2 linked regions of the Homo sapiens genome follow. Each later gene encodes a partner of the first gene's protein in a complex. Each region holds a gene or a part of one and is shown in the gene's direction. Other genes may lie near its edges.

The links. The genes of interacting proteins can lie anywhere in the genome.
Region 2: the proteins of PACRG (region 1) and TUBB4B are in contact, whole or in part, in a cryo-EM structure (PDB 7UNG), measured with the Homo sapiens proteins. Residues at the interface, in NP_689623.2 of Homo sapiens: Glu40, Gly41, Phe42, Thr43, Val44, Ala46, Met47, Met48, Val53, Arg54, Gly55, Pro56, Pro57, Ala58, Ala59, Gly60, Ala61, Phe62, Arg65, Lys154, Arg160, Arg162, Arg191, Gln192, Pro195, Asn198, Ile199, Phe200, Asn202, Met203; in NP_006079.1 of Homo sapiens: Glu194 (codon at 5,785), Phe260 (codon at 5,983), Pro261 (codon at 5,986), Arg262 (codon at 5,989), Gln291 (codon at 6,076), Phe294 (codon at 6,085), Asp295 (codon at 6,088), Ala296 (codon at 6,091), Arg306 (codon at 6,121), His307 (codon at 6,124), Gly308 (codon at 6,127), Arg309 (codon at 6,130), Tyr310 (codon at 6,133), Val333 (codon at 6,202), Lys336 (codon at 6,211), Asn337 (codon at 6,214), Ser339 (codon at 6,220), Tyr340 (codon at 6,223), Phe341 (codon at 6,226), Gln375 (codon at 6,328), Ser413 (codon at 6,442), Asn414 (codon at 6,445), Asp417 (codon at 6,454), Ser420 (codon at 6,463), Gln423 (codon at 6,472), Gln424 (codon at 6,475), Tyr425 (codon at 6,478), Gln426 (codon at 6,481), Asp427 (codon at 6,484), Glu432 (codon at 6,499).

Annotation. Positions count from the first base shown.
Region 1 is NC_000006.12:162,722,884-162,731,020, forward strand, and holds the start of PACRG (parkin coregulated gene protein), read left to right. Parts: upstream 1-5,090; 5' UTR 5,091-5,352; coding exon 5,353-5,508; intron 5,509-8,137. UniProt on the Homo sapiens protein: Microtubule inner protein (MIP) part of the dynein-decorated doublet microtubules (DMTs) in cilia axoneme, which is required for motile cilia beating. Suppresses cell death induced by accumulation of unfolded Pael receptor (Pael-R, a substrate of Parkin).
Region 2 is NC_000009.12:137,237,014-137,244,207, forward strand, and holds TUBB4B (tubulin beta-4B chain), read left to right. Parts: upstream 1-4,273; 5' UTR 4,274-4,347; coding exon 4,348-4,404; intron 4,405-4,707; coding exon 4,708-4,816; intron 4,817-4,897; coding exon 4,898-5,008; intron 5,009-5,482; coding exon 5,483-6,543; 3' UTR 6,544-6,686; downstream 6,687-7,194. Other genes in the region: CIMIP2A (ciliary microtubule inner protein 2A), read right to left, coding at 6,687-6,775, 7,158-7,194. UniProt on the Homo sapiens protein: Tubulin is the major constituent of microtubules, a cylinder consisting of laterally associated linear protofilaments composed of alpha- and beta-tubulin heterodimers.

The DNA of each region.
Region 1 (8,137 bases):
CTATTATATAATTACATAAAATCTTCTATGCAAAACTTTAGTAGAGCCTATTTTTGACACAATTTTACCTCATTATAAACAGAAGCTTTGGGGTACTTAGGCATAGAGCTGGTTTTCATCAACTTATCAAAATGGCAGGGCAAAGAGCAGTACACAGTATATTCAACTAGAAATATAAATTGAGACTTTAAAATTCACTGCACACAAGCTTGAAAACAAATATGCAGATGTGTAGCCAAATGGTGAAGTCGGAATATACATTCCTGATGGCAAGGGACTTTTTCTGTTGTGTTCCCTCGTTTCCCTGGCACCTAGAGCAGTTAAGGGTACATAGCAGGTGCTGGAATCACTGGATCTGCTTTTGCAAAACTAACGCACTATAAGATGAGAATGAGAAGTTTTCTTCTAAATTAATTTGAAAAGTTAAAAGATACTGTTTTTCATCTGTCAAGACGGCAAAAATAAAAAATCTTCGATGGCACATGGGAGGAAATGGGCACTCTTATACACACTGAAAGGGAGGGCAGGGCCACCAAGGACAGTTGTGCAGCTTGTACACTGAAAGGCACTACCCCTAGGGTGAGAGAGAGGTGGGGGACCGGAGATCCAGGAGGCGTTCTGCTAGTGAAAGCTGAGTCAGTCTCAGGAAGGACGTCTTTTGGCAATTTTCAGCCCAGAGGGGCAGGGCAGCTCTTTACTACCATGTTGTATTAGTGGAGGCTTTAGATAGGCTTGTAAAATTGGGCAACTTATTTTGGAAAAATTTTGAAATACCTAGGAAAATGTAAAATCTACAAACTCTTTAACTCAAATTGTCATACGATTTTTATTTTACATCTATGCTTACATGTGCAAGTAAAAAGATATGGCCACAAACACTTCTGACAACAGTTGTCTGTAAACCTAATGAGTGCTTATTTATTGGTAAATATTTTCATAATTAGTGTATCCTATAAAAGACTAGGCAGGAATCGCTGTGGAGTGGATCTGGACATGCAGATATGTAAATTCTCAAAGAGATGCTAAGTGAAACAAGGTATAGAAGAGACTATGTTCCAATGAATGGTTTTTGTCAATCAAAAATCTTCTTAAAAGTCTAAGACACTGAATGTGTATTTCAATACTGACAACATTGTTGTATATATAACCATGCACTCTAATATCTGCTGTTACTCAAATACCTAAATCCAGTTCTACAGAACATTTAGAACATACCACAAATATCCCCACTAACATTCCATTTTAAACACAAAGAATTGCTCATTTTTAAAAAAGTCAAAATATATTTTTAATAGAGGTACCAAAAATTACATTTTTCTAAATTGAATTCTTTTAAGCTTTTCTATTCTGCTTTATATCATCTTGAAGTCCTTCTCCACACTTTCCACAAAGGCACAATTTTTAACCGACTTCAATTAAATTATGTTTCTGTAGCTGCCTGGGTCAGGGCATTCAACACATCAATCACAATGCAGGTGGGAAATGTAAGTACTTTTGAAACAGTCCTCATGCCAATAAGGGAATCTTCGGTTTTGAGAAAGTAAAAGGAAGGTACATGTCATTAGCAGTGAGGTCACAGTCAGTCCTGTTTACTCCTATTCTACCAGGAAACCCATCTTTACGTTTCTCCTTAAACTAAGCCAGGATTTAAATAAAGTGGCAGAATATTATTCGCAGTAAGGTTGAGGCGGGAAATTAAAGAACAATAAAATTAAAAAGAAAGAGAAATAAGTTTTCCTGTTTTAGGCTAACTTGTTCCAGAAGCAGCAACAGGCACAGCCTAGACCCAGGAAAAGTCTTGATAATATTATCTAATATGCTCTGGAGACTCTCTCAGCACTCCCTCAACACAGGGAGAAGAAAAACAAATTTTCCTTTGTTTTACAGAATGAGTTTATAGACTCTTGTTCTCTGTAACTAGTGATTTCAAGTATTCTGTTTTATCTAAGTAGTACAACGAAGGTCATAAAAAGCCTGAGTAGGCCTGAACTACAGCTGCCTGGGCACCACAGAGAAGGTTATAGGATAAGCCTGTGCCCAGGCAAACCTAGAAAACGAACATCTGGGTTGCTTGGCAATGGTCATCTGCAATCCTGTCTTTGTCCTGCCTCTGTATCCCTGCTTTCACGCCACTGTAAGCTTGCTTCAAGCTAGCCCACCTCCGTTTGTGAAGTGTGTATAAAAGTCAAGTACTGTCTTTATTCTGGGCCCAGTCTTTTGGATGTGAGTCAGCTGGGCCTGAGTACACTCAATAAAGATTCTCCTGCTTCAACCTGAGGTCTCCCTCATACTCCCGAATCCCGCAACAAGGTGAGTGTAATAGTTAGAGAAAGCATAGGCCTGAAAGGAGCAAGCTTTGAGAAGCACTCTTACCTTTAACAGAAAATCCCAGATACATACTATTTACATTTTAGTGATCACTGGATAAAGTCTATAATGTCTTTCCTGGCTCTGAATTTTTGTCACAAAAACACAAAACCCATCACTCCAAGGCTTCCTTTTAATGGTTTTCACTTTCACCTACCTTTAGCACTGTTCACGACACCCAAATCCCAAACTGACCATTCAGATGTTTACTGAAATGTGGCTAATGAGGCTGGGCGTGGTGGTTCATGCCTGTAATCCCAGCACTTTCAGAGGCGAATGCGGGAGGATTGCTTGAGCCCAGGAGTTTGAGACCAGCCTGGGCAACATTATGAAACTCCATCTCTACAAAAACTATAACAAAAAATTGGCAGGCATGGTGGCACACACCTGTAGTCACAGCTACTCAGGAGGCTGAGATGGGAGGATCACTTGAGCCCAGGAGTTGGAGGCTGCAGTGAGCTGTGATGGTGCCACTGCACTCCGGCCTGGGTGACAGAGACAGAACCTGTCTCAAAAAGAGGAAAAAAAAAAAAAAAAGACGTGTGTCTAATTTCAGAATTAGGCAATGCAACTAGTTGAATATTTTATTGCACATTGTCCATGATCTTATATGTAAGGCACATTTCCTAGGGAAAGCAGGCATGGATTTAATCATTTATGTTGTACTGCACACTTATTTGCACTATGTAAAACCATGGCTGGAGTGAGAGAAATAACACTTTTAAAAACCAACCTTATATTCTCCATGTCATTACCAGTAATTGATAACTGTTTAATCATCAACTCCAAAGATATTTCTTCCTTATTGGAAGAATTCCAGATAAAACTAAACAGAACTGTCCAAACACATTTCATCCTAATAAAGTTATTTATATAATCACTTATTAGGTCATAACTTATAACTGAGTAATGTTCTTTAGATCTTAAGTGCTTGTCTTTATATAGCTTTACAATAAATTTGTTTCTCTTAAAATTATCTGTGCACTAGATTAAGTTAAATTAAAATAAAATGTATTTAACTGTCTTCAAAATAAGGTATAGGCTATTTTCTTCCTGTAGACTGACAGCACAGATATTGGAAAATCTCTTCTACTTGGTTTTCTGATTCAGTTCAAACTTGTGCTTGCAAGTGAATCTTACGTAAATGTCACCTAAAAAGAGCTCAAGAAGACTCATAAAAAATATTTTTTTCGTAATTTGATTAACTTTCAAGTCATTCACCAAAAGTCAGACCATGCTAGAAAGGGAAGAAAAGTTGGACAACATTCTTGTTTTACCACAAAGACCATGCCAGTTAGCTGGCTTGATTCTCCCACTGATGGGGAGAATGTTTACATTTTAACAATAACTTCACAAATAAACAGATGTAAGAAGTGTTTTCAGTGCATAAAGATCATATACTTTATAAATCCACCTCTCATCTTTCTTCTGGACAGACCACATCTGACTTCGAACGTACTTACTGCAATCAAAAGTGTTTTGTAAAGGACCCTCCTCAGGAATAAACAAGCTCACTAAACCCTCCATACATAACCTGGAGAAACCTCCACAATAATGAAACCCCATCTAGCACTGTTTTTCAAACATATGGTGCATTTCCATTAATTTTCAGGGATAGCCCCTAAAGTAACTTTTGGCTCAACAACCCTGGAAGAGAGGACCTTTGCTCATCTTACACATCAAGTGTTCATGAACAACTCTGATGCCACTAAGTTTCGTTCACAAACTTGCACCTCGGTCGTTCTTTTACAAAAAAAAAAAAGAAAGGTTATTTTGCAAAAGGCAATAGATTTAATCTTGGCTACTATTTACTCTTAATGTTTCTTTCATCTCAGCCCTCCAATGAGAAGTTTAAAAGGAAACATCCGAGGGAGCAAGTTTAGATCTATCTGGAGGAGTTTCTGTGGAGCCAGCCACCCTCACCAGGTGCCTTCCATTAGAGTTTAATGCTTTGCTGCGGTTTCCTGAAAGAGCCCCACAGAGAGTGGGTCTCGATGGGTCCTGAACCGCACCACAACCGGCCAGTGAGGTGAGGGGCGAAGGTGAGGGGCGGCGGCGGGGCGAAGGTGAGGGGCGGCGGCGGGGAGAAGGCTTCGGGACCCCACACGGTCCGGGGGACCGCGAACGAGGAGCGGGGGTGCGGGGCCGCCTGGCGTCCCCGTCGAGGCGGTCTTCATGAGAACGCTCAGAGCAGGGGCGGGCAGGCGAGGGCTTCGAACGCACACACTGGGGCCCCGGACCCGCGTCGCTGAGCTGGGGAGCCCGGCGGCGCGGGCCGGGGACGGCACGGGCACTTTGGCCCCGTCATTGACAGTTGGCACCGGGGGTCCTGGTCGGCCGAGGCGGGGCGTGGCGCCATACCGGGGCGTGGGGCGGCGCAGAGAGGCTGTACCTGGCAGGTACCCACGTACCTATCATGGTCACTGGGTAGGTGGCGGCTGCGGGCCAGGAACAGGCCCATGCGCGCAGCGGCGCCAGCCGCGCCTCCCACCAGCGGCTCTCCTGGGTTAAATCCTCCAGGCCTCCCCGCCCCCGCGCCCGGCCCTAGGAATGCGCACGCGCGGAGGGCGCGGCCCAGGGCCTGCTGGGAGTCGTAGTTCTAACGCGTAGTTTCTCCTCACGCCTCCTGCCCCCAGCCCCCCACCGCCGCCCTTTCCGGCTTCAGGCCCAGCAATCTTACGTCACCGGGGGGCGGGGCTATGCGCCCGCCGTGTTGACCAGTCGCTTAGCAACCGGGAGGCTTACCTTTGGAAGCTTGTTGCAGCTCTAGCCAAGGTCCTGCCCTCTTCCCGCCCCGCCCCTAGGGTCCAGCTCCCTTCACCTAGGAGCTGCCAAACATCTGGATCAACCTGGGCACTACGAGGGGTTGAATTTCTACCATTATCGCGCCTTTTGATATTTTTTTCCAGACCTCCTGCTCACATCCGTAAAGCCCACTGATTCTTTTACTACACTTTTTATGAGAACAAGACATTTTCTAGGAAGATGGTGGCAGAAAAAGAGACCCTGAGCTTAAACAAATGCCCAGACAAGATGCCGAAGAGGACCAAGCTGCTGGCACAACAGCCGCTCCCGGTGCACCAGCCTCACTCTCTGGTTTCTGAGGGTTTCACAGTCAAAGCCATGATGAAAAACTCAGTCGTAAGTGATCTTCCTGAATTAAATGCACTCGCTCTGAATCAGGGGACACGAGATTTACAGAGGTTGGCCAGCCTTAGGATGGACTCTGAGCCATGTCCTGGGTGGTCTTTGCCAAAAAAGGCAGTTACTTGGCAAGTAGCAAACGGTGCCCCACAGTGTGTGGGGGGCAGGCTAGGTTGTTAGAATCTTGGGCAAGTGATGTACTCTGCCCATTTATAAGCACCTTCCTGATAACTTATGGTTTCTGGACCGCCCAAAATTACTCTTAAGCTATTTACACGAGGAAAAAAGATCCCCTTTACTTACTAATTCCTAACTAGCCCCACTCAGCAAAGGGCCTTATAGAAGGTGAGTTCTTAGAAATCATAAACTCTTGCAAAATTTAACATGAGCTGATATACAACCGGGAACATAAACTCATGAAATAATCTATAATGAGAAATTTCTTCACTTCAACCTAGGAAATTTTAGAATATCCTAGCATTTGCTCTAACAACACTTGTCTCTTACAAAATGATGTCATCTTCTTAGAGTACTGAAAGCCAACTTAATATGAACACTGTTTCCTGACAGGCCTTTTAAGATGATGTGCTTTAAACAATACAAGCTTTAGCTCATATATCTCTGCTACTAATACAATTCATATTTCATCTCTATTATTTGTAGTAATAAAAATAAAATATTCTAAGTATCATTAGAGAAAAAAGATTAAAAATATATACAAATATTTTAGCTGTCTGCATGATAGTATATATTTTTTAAACCTTCCTATTTGTTAAATAGCTTTACACTTGGTATGCTAAGACAGATTTTGCTACTGAGTAAGCAACTGTCTGGGAATGAGGCATTAAATAATAAATGCATCTTTCAAATTTGTGTAATTTACACCCTGGGAAGATCTGAGTTATTACATGGCAATTCATTATGTTAAATGAATAGTGTTGTTTTCCAGTGTCACATTATTTCCTTTGCTTATAGGTTGCAAACCTGATAACTTATTCCTAAACGACATACTTAAAATACATGAATGAAACAGATTACCTATAGACCTCTAGGCCAGGTTCCCATGTGGCTATGCAAAACGATATCCTAATTATTGGGAAGTGTGTCAGGTGATTTACAGTAGTTAAAATTCTTGGAAATGGACTAAAATTCTGCTTGTTGTAACTAATTCTTTTTCATGGAATTTCACATAAATTGGTTCTCCTAGGAGTCAAGATGATGCATTTATCAGCAATACCATAACCATTCAGGTTAATCATTTAGTTTTTCTTCTACACAATATTTACAATTTTGATGTTTTTTAATGTTATACTTTAATTTTTTTTTTACTGGTTGGGGTTCTTTTCTGTTTTTTCCTAAACCTGTATTCATAATTCTTGTATCATATTAATTCTTTAATATAATCTTACACCTAAAGAGATAGTTCTGCAAAATCTGATGTTTCTGTATTGCCAAATGTAATAAGTATGCCTACATGACTTAAAAAAAACATTGATTATGAAGCAGGCTTCTTTATAAACAACTTAATTGAGATCCATTATCTTCTCTTTTTATGTTCTAAAGGAAAATCTTGTACTAGCAATACCTCTCTTGCCATTGGAAATCGTAATTCTTAAATGCAAACATTATTTATCCATTCATCTATTTATTCAGTCAACAACTGTCTCTCTTTTTTTTTTTTTTAATACCCAGTGTTTGCTAAGCACAGTTCTGGGGATTTGGGATCAGCAAAGCAAAGTCCCTGCCCTTAGTACTCCGAGGAAAACCAAAATAACAACATTCAAATCTTGATAAAAGAAGGCTGGACAATACCGTTTATACAAAATAACTTCAGTGGTACAGGAAATAAAAATTTTCAATTTCATAACCAATATTTACATTTCACCATTTTTATCTTTAGCAGTATAGACTTCTCAGCATTATAAGGTGAAAATGTCCTCATCTCTTTCTGAAGGTGTATTTTGATTCAGGACGTGTATGCCAATTTCCAGCTTTTCTTAATTGCAACCTCATGCTCCAAGAGCCAACACCCTCCAAACCACTTTTCCAGTTAGATAAGTCAACATTCCAATGCTCTTCCACCTAAAACATGAAGAACTGTATATATCATAAGGAGTTATACAGAGACTCCTGATATTTCTCTGAGTGCGATAGTGATACAAGTACATAAACTTGATAATAAATATGTTTCATCAAATGGGCTGTGCAAGCAGAAATGCTTATTTAAACAATCTGGATATGAGAGTGCAAGATTATTGAAAAAATAATGATAAATGTAAATGGCAAAATTTTTAAAATCTCAATGTCAAATATTTTTCTTCAATAGAAACTAGACTTTCTTTCCATGAAATTTTTGTTGCATTCTATAAGAAAACAAGCATCACAAAAGCCCTGCAATGAAATAATATTCAAATTCACATTTTTATAGTGCTTGCCTATAAAGAGATATGAGATACACAACTTGAAGATTTCATAGTTCATTTTCCTTTAAAAGTCTTGTTTGGGGTGTGATAGAGCCCATGACCAGAAACTAGTAACCCAGTATTTTGTTGTCTTTATCTTGTCAGATACTTTCTGTGCTGAACAAGCTTATCACGAAGCAAGTTAGAAAATCGACCCAGGGTTA
Region 2 (7,194 bases), on another chromosome or scaffold:
GACACTTCTCTGCAGGGCTGGGCCACGGCAGGTGCTCAGCTCCCAGAACCCACCAGGAAGCCAGTCTCACCCGCCAGGCTGGGGCACACTGAGGCCTCCCACTGCCACGGAGAATGAGACCCTGTCCCGGGAAGGCCTGTCCGTGGGGTGGGCCCAGGAGGGCGGACAGCACCCATGGGGAGGACTTGGGGGCCAGGGGGCCCTCCCTCTGCTGTGTGGTCGGGTTTCCACACAGGAAGGCTTGTCTGCCAGCCAATGGGTAACTGGACACCTAGGAAGTTGAGGGGGGGCTCCTGCCACCTCTAGCCCAGAGCTGCCCACAGCCCTAACCCAACCCCCACTCCCGCCAAGGGAAGAAAGCCTTGGGTTACCCCAGAACTGGAGCATTCATTCAGGCACACAGAGACGGGTGGGTGAGGGGACGGTCCCATCAGGGACAGGTCTAGTTTGCTCATTTGAGTCTGCTGCTGTGGCCAGTCACGTTCTCCCTTCCAGAACTGCAGCCCTGTTGGGGGGCAGCTCTCTTCCCAGAGCCTCCCAGGATTGCCTGGTCAGACCCCACTAGGGGATAGAGGTGCAGCCACTCAGGAAGATGAGGCCTGAGGGGGCCCCACGGCCACTTCTCCTCTGTGGCTCTGTTCTTTTCTGCCCTCAGTTTCCCTTTGCCCCTGCTCATGACCCCCAGACCCTCTGTGCCCTTGGCCCCCAGTCTTCCCTGGGTCCTCTGCCCCAGCCACCCCTCAAACTCTTAGGCCTCCTGGGCCTTGGTTTCACCTACCGAGGGAGGTGACCACCTGCTCTGGGAGCCAGGGGTGCCTCAGGGGTGGGCTCCAGTGAGAATGGGACCCCCAGCAGCTAGAGCTTTGGTTCTCACAGCCCTGTGATTCTAGGACGCCCCTGTGGACCTGACATCAGCCTCATAGAACCGTCTGGCACCCCTGTAGGGGACAAGCCTGGCTAGCTCCCTGGGGAGCCTGAGGGGCCGGGGAGCTCCCCTGTCCTTTGGGGGGGGATCAGTGAGGCCCTTGTGGAGAGAGGGAGGAAGCACCCCATGCACCTGTCCTTCCAGGGCAGGTGAGGCCTCCCACAAAGGCTGGGCGTCTGGTCCTTTAAGGCAGCCAATACTGTCTGCCTGCTGTCCCTGCCTGGCGGTAACACACCCTCCCACTGGGACCATGGCCACCAGTAAACAGAGCCTTCGTTGTGGATCCTCCGACAGCTGCAGGAGGAGGAGGGCAGGTGCCCAGCACTCCCACAGCCACGCCTGCCCCGCTTCCCTGCCCTTCTGGCCCTCCTTGGACCACATCCTGCCTGGCCACAGACCCCAGGCCCAGGAGTTGGTCCTCCTGCCCCACACTATCCCGCCTCTCCATCCTGCAGCAGGGCACCTTGGCTCAGGGTGGGACCTACAGAGCCTTCCCCAACCAGTTTTGTGCAACAGGGGTGGCTGCTGTCCTTGTTGGGCTCAGGCCCAGGCTTCAGGGTGTCTACTGCTGTCTTGTCCCCAGCCAGTGTCCACCTCACCAGGGCAATGCAAGGGCAAAGTAGGCAAGCTGGTGCCATGGCGAGCTCTGGGGCTCTCACCTGGGCAGGTGACACCTGTGAAACGGGTGGCACACTGACCTCCCAGCCCTGTGGGCACTGGTCACAGGAAGCAGGGGCCTTTACTGGAGAGGGGTTGGGAGACTCTGACAAGGTGCAGGAATGCCACACACCTCAAAGAGCAGCCTCAGTTGGGCTCTGCACAGTTCACTGAGGAAAAAAACAGAGCTTCTCCTTCTCCCCTTTGTGACAACTCAATGTTATGAGACTCCAACATGTCCCTGACTACTGCCTGGACAGCTGAGCTACTCTGCAGGACCCCAGGATGCCCTGGGCACTAGGAGAAACCTGGGATGGCTGGCAGCAACCTGTGCACCCCTCAGGCCGCTGCAGGACCCCAGTCCCTCTGAGGGTCAAGGCCTGTGTCACAGTGGTCACTGGAAGCCAGGCCCGCCTTCCTGGGCTGATCTGTGGGGGAGGCCACCCTCCTGGACAGGATGGCAAACTGGCAACAGACCCCCGAGGAGTGAGCACAGCTGCAGGCCCTCGCCCCAGAAGGACAATGCTGATCCCCGCGCATGCTCCGGTGCTGCGTGTCCCGAGTTCTGGTATCGCGCATTATGTGGTGAAGACAGAGGTGCAGTCCCTCCAGGAAGAGAGAAATAAATAAGCAGATGTTGTTTCCAACAGCCTCCAATTGGGAGACAGATGCCCAGTGGCCAGAGCACAGGAGACTGTCAGGGCCGACCTGATGGTGTAATTTATTTAAAATGCTACAAAAATACAGCCAGGTGCAGTGGCTCATGCCTGTAATCCCAGCACTTTGGGAGGCCGAGGCGAATGAATCACAAGGTCAGTTCCAGACCAGCCTGGCCAAGATGGTGAAACCCCATCTCTATTAAAAATACAGAAATTAGCCGGGCGTGGTGGCGGGCGCCTGTAATCCCAGCTACTCGGGAGGCTGAGGCAGGAGAATCGCTTGAACCCGGGAGATGGAGGTTGCAGTGAGCCGAGATCATGCCACTGCACTCCAGCCTGAGCGACGGAGCCAGACTCTGTCTCAAAAAAAAAAAAAAAAAAAAATAGCCAGGCGTGGTGGTGCACACCTGTAGTTCCAGCTACTTGGGAAGGTGAGGCAGGCGAATTGCTTGAACCGGGGAGGCAGAGGTTGCAGCGAGCTGAGATTGCGCCACTGCACTCCAGCCTAGGCGACAAGAGCAAAACTCCATCTCAAAAAAAAAAGAAAAAAGCTACAAAAATGTAGAAGGCACGGCGGCTCATTCCCGTAAATCCGAGCACTTGGGGAGGCCGAGGCGGGCGGATCACTTGAGGTCAGGAGTTTCAGACCAGCTTGGCCAACATGGTGAAATCCCATTTCTACCAAAAATACAAAAATTAGCGGCGTGGTGGTGGGTGCCTGCAGTCCCACCTACTGGGGAGGCTGAGGCAGAAGAATCGCTTGAACCTGGGGGGGGGCGGGGAGCCAAGATCGCGCCACTGCACTCCAGCCCGGGAGACAGAGCGAGACTCTGTCTCAGAATAATAAATTAAGTAAAATAAAAATGCTGCAAAAATACAGCCCGTTTGTTTTTAAACAGGCGCAACCACATGTAATTCATTTTAAGTTTCTTTTCCCACCCAAGTAAAAATCAAGTCATAAATTAGGAAAAGCATTAACAGAAGTATGTTTCAGCCCCAGCGCGCTGACCTGTGGTTGGAATACCGGCCCTGGAGCCCGGAGGTCGGGGCCCACCCGCCGAGGGAGGTCTGGGCGCTGTCCTGGTCTCCACGGAGCTCGCGCACTCACGGGGCCGAGGCACCAAGGCGACCGGCGCAGAGCCAGCGCCGTCTCCACAACAGGGCAGGGCGCGCAGCTGCGGGGGAGGCCTCGCCCCTCCGCTCCCCTCCCCTGCCCTCCGCCCCGGCCCTCGGGGCGCGGCGTCCCCCACGTGCTCCCCTCACGCGACCGCGAGGGCAGTGGGCGTGCGGCACCCGGGAGCAGGAAACTCCGTGGCCTCTGCGGCTCTGTGGAGAGCTCCCCTCCACCGCCGCAGCCCCCGAGCCCGTGTATCTTCCTGCCTTTAAGGCATCGCAGCCTCCTCGGCCTGGAGGCCCCGGGCTCGCTCCGTGCGGACCCCGCTCCAGAACCCGCCCAGCGCGCAGATGCCGTGTCCCGGCGCAAGGCCAGAGAGGGCGCAACTCTGGACGTGGGGCCGCCACCGAGCCTGCCCTTCCCGGCTCCCGAAAGGCCCCGGGCTCAGAGCCAAGACTGCGCTTGCCCGAGGCCCGTCGGGCCCGCCCTCCCTCGGCGCCCCCAGCGCAGCTGCCCGCCGCCCGACCGGAAGCCCGCACTCGCGCCTGCGCCCCACCCCGTCCGCGCGCCGGCCGCGGCACTGCGGCGGTTACCAGGACGCTGAAGCAGCGCAGCCAATAGCGCCAGCCTGGCGGCGTGCTCCCGGCAGCCAGCCAATGAGACGGCAAATCAATCATTTGAAACACCCAATGGACGGAGCACTGCGGCGCCAGGAGGGGGATTGTGATAGGGAGATAGGAGGCTGCGGCTGACCAATAAAGACCAAACTGGCTTAAAAAGGCGGACCTTAGGCAGCTTGATTGACGGGGGCAAGGCCAATCAAACGAGGGAGCTTGCCAGCCTCGTTCTGGCAGCCCATTCCGAGACTAGCGGAGGCGGGCAGGGAGGGTATATAAGCGTTGGCGGAGCGTCGGTTGTAGCACTCTGCGCGCCCGCTCTTCTGCTGCTGTTTGTCTACTTCCTCCTGCTTCCCCGCCGCCGCCGCCGCCATCATGAGGGAAATCGTGCACTTGCAGGCCGGGCAGTGCGGCAACCAAATCGGCGCCAAGGTAAGTTGCCGGGGCGCTGGGGCCAGGCGGGCCTGCCGGGCGGTGTGGGCGGGCGGCCGGGGAAGATGGCGGCAGCAGCGGCCGGGCGGCGCCCCCGCATTGCGGCCGCCGGGCCCCCTCCGCGGGGAATTGGCCGAGCCGGGCGACCGAAGCCCCCAGGAACCCGGCGGCCAGGGCGCGCGGGGCGGGGGAGGGGCGGGGAGGGCCGGGCTGCCGCGCCCGTCCGGGGCGGGGCTGCCTCCCTGCGCACCGGCCGCGGTGACTCAGCCCCGGCCCGCCCGGGCCCGCCCGCGTCCCTTGTAGTTTTGGGAGGTGATCAGCGATGAGCACGGCATCGACCCCACGGGCACCTACCACGGGGACAGCGACCTGCAGCTGGAACGCATCAACGTGTACTACAATGAGGCCACCGGTGAGGCCCCGGCCCCTTCCCCGACCGCCCTCCGGGGACCCCGCGGCCCCTGCCTTGGCTGACGCCCTCCCGTCCCCGCAGGCGGCAAGTACGTGCCCCGCGCCGTGCTCGTGGATCTGGAGCCCGGCACCATGGACTCCGTGCGCTCGGGGCCCTTCGGGCAGATCTTCCGGCCGGACAACTTCGTTTTCGGTGAGCCGTGGCTGGGGACTGGGCGGCGGCTCAAAGGTCAAGGGGCTGCTCCAAGGGCACCGCCGTGGGAACTGCGCAGCCGGGGCCCCTGGACGCCCTCCTCTTCTCTGAGCCACTCAATCCCCTCTACTAAATCGGCTTTGGGAGCAAGGTCCAGCTGTCTGCCGAGGCGAGGAGCCGCCACACACGTAATCTCCCTGCAGGGAGCTGAGCTGGGGCAGTGGCTGTTCCTCTGTCCTTGGGAATTGGCAGTGGCCCCCCCGGGGAGGGGTTTGTTAAGCTGTCAGGTTTGGCCCCTGACTTAATTCGTAGCAGGGCAGGCTGCCGTCTTTTGGCTTTGAAGGGTCCGTTTGCTCTACCTCCAGGGTGAATTCTGTGGTCAGCTCACACCATGTCACTCGGCTTTTTTCGCATGGCGGTGACCAGTAGTGCTGTCTACCTGGCTGACAAATGATTAGCTGTGTTCTCTCACAGGTCAGAGTGGTGCTGGGAACAACTGGGCCAAGGGGCACTACACAGAAGGCGCGGAGCTGGTGGACTCGGTGCTGGATGTTGTGAGAAAGGAGGCTGAGAGCTGTGACTGCCTGCAGGGTTTCCAGCTGACCCACTCCCTGGGTGGGGGGACTGGGTCTGGGATGGGTACCCTCCTCATCAGCAAGATCCGGGAGGAGTACCCAGACAGGATCATGAACACGTTTAGTGTGGTGCCTTCGCCCAAAGTGTCAGACACAGTGGTGGAGCCCTACAACGCCACCCTCTCAGTCCACCAGCTCGTAGAAAACACAGACGAGACCTACTGCATTGATAACGAAGCTCTCTACGACATTTGCTTCAGAACCCTAAAGCTGACCACGCCCACCTATGGTGACCTGAACCACCTGGTGTCTGCTACCATGAGTGGGGTCACCACCTGCCTGCGCTTCCCAGGCCAGCTCAATGCTGACCTGCGGAAGCTGGCTGTGAACATGGTCCCGTTTCCCCGGCTGCACTTCTTCATGCCCGGCTTTGCCCCACTGACCAGCCGGGGCAGCCAGCAGTACCGGGCGCTGACCGTGCCCGAGCTCACCCAGCAGATGTTTGATGCCAAGAACATGATGGCTGCCTGCGACCCCCGCCATGGCCGCTACCTGACGGTTGCCGCCGTGTTCAGGGGCCGCATGTCCATGAAGGAGGTGGATGAGCAAATGCTTAATGTCCAAAACAAAAACAGCAGCTATTTTGTTGAGTGGATCCCCAACAATGTGAAAACGGCTGTCTGTGACATCCCACCTCGGGGGCTAAAAATGTCCGCCACCTTCATTGGCAACAGCACGGCCATCCAGGAGCTGTTCAAGCGCATCTCCGAGCAGTTCACGGCCATGTTCCGGCGCAAGGCCTTCCTGCACTGGTACACGGGCGAGGGCATGGACGAGATGGAGTTCACCGAGGCCGAGAGCAACATGAATGACCTGGTGTCCGAGTACCAGCAGTACCAGGATGCCACAGCCGAGGAGGAGGGCGAGTTCGAGGAGGAGGCTGAGGAGGAGGTGGCCTAGAGCCTTCAGTCACTGGGGAAAGCAGGGAAGCAGTGTGAACTCTTTATTCACTCCCAGCCTGTCCTGTGGCCTGTCCCACTGTGTGCACTTGCTGTTTTCCCTGTCCACATCCATGCTGTACAGACACCACCATTAAAGCATTTTCATAGTGTGTGGTTTCGCTTTGCCCATTCCTTCCAGTAGGCCCTCCGGGTGCTGTTGCCGAATGTCAGGGCGTAGTTGTCCTGCATGGCTGCGGGGAGCCAGGCTGCAGCTGAGCTGGGCTTATGTGCCCAGGACCAGCATGGGCTGGACACCCAGGCTTCAGAGAAGTGTGGGGCTGCCCTGGGCCCTGGGTATCTGCTTGGTGGGGAACTTGCTTGTTGAAGGCAGGCCTGTCCTGTTCCAGGTACCCAACCTTGGGGCTCGGCCTGTGTCTGGGACTTAGGTGGGTCCAGTGACCCCCCTTCCAAAAGGGGTAGGGAGGATGGCAGACAATCCTACCCCAACCAAGGTGGGACCCTGGTAATGGTCAGACAGGTGGTCCTGAACCAGCAATGAAGGGTGAGCAGGTAGAGCCGTCCCTCCCCACATTGGCCGGGGTGTGTCCATGTGACCCTGCCCACTCTACTCACCGGGGATGAACCCCATGTAGAAGGGGATCAGGCCTTG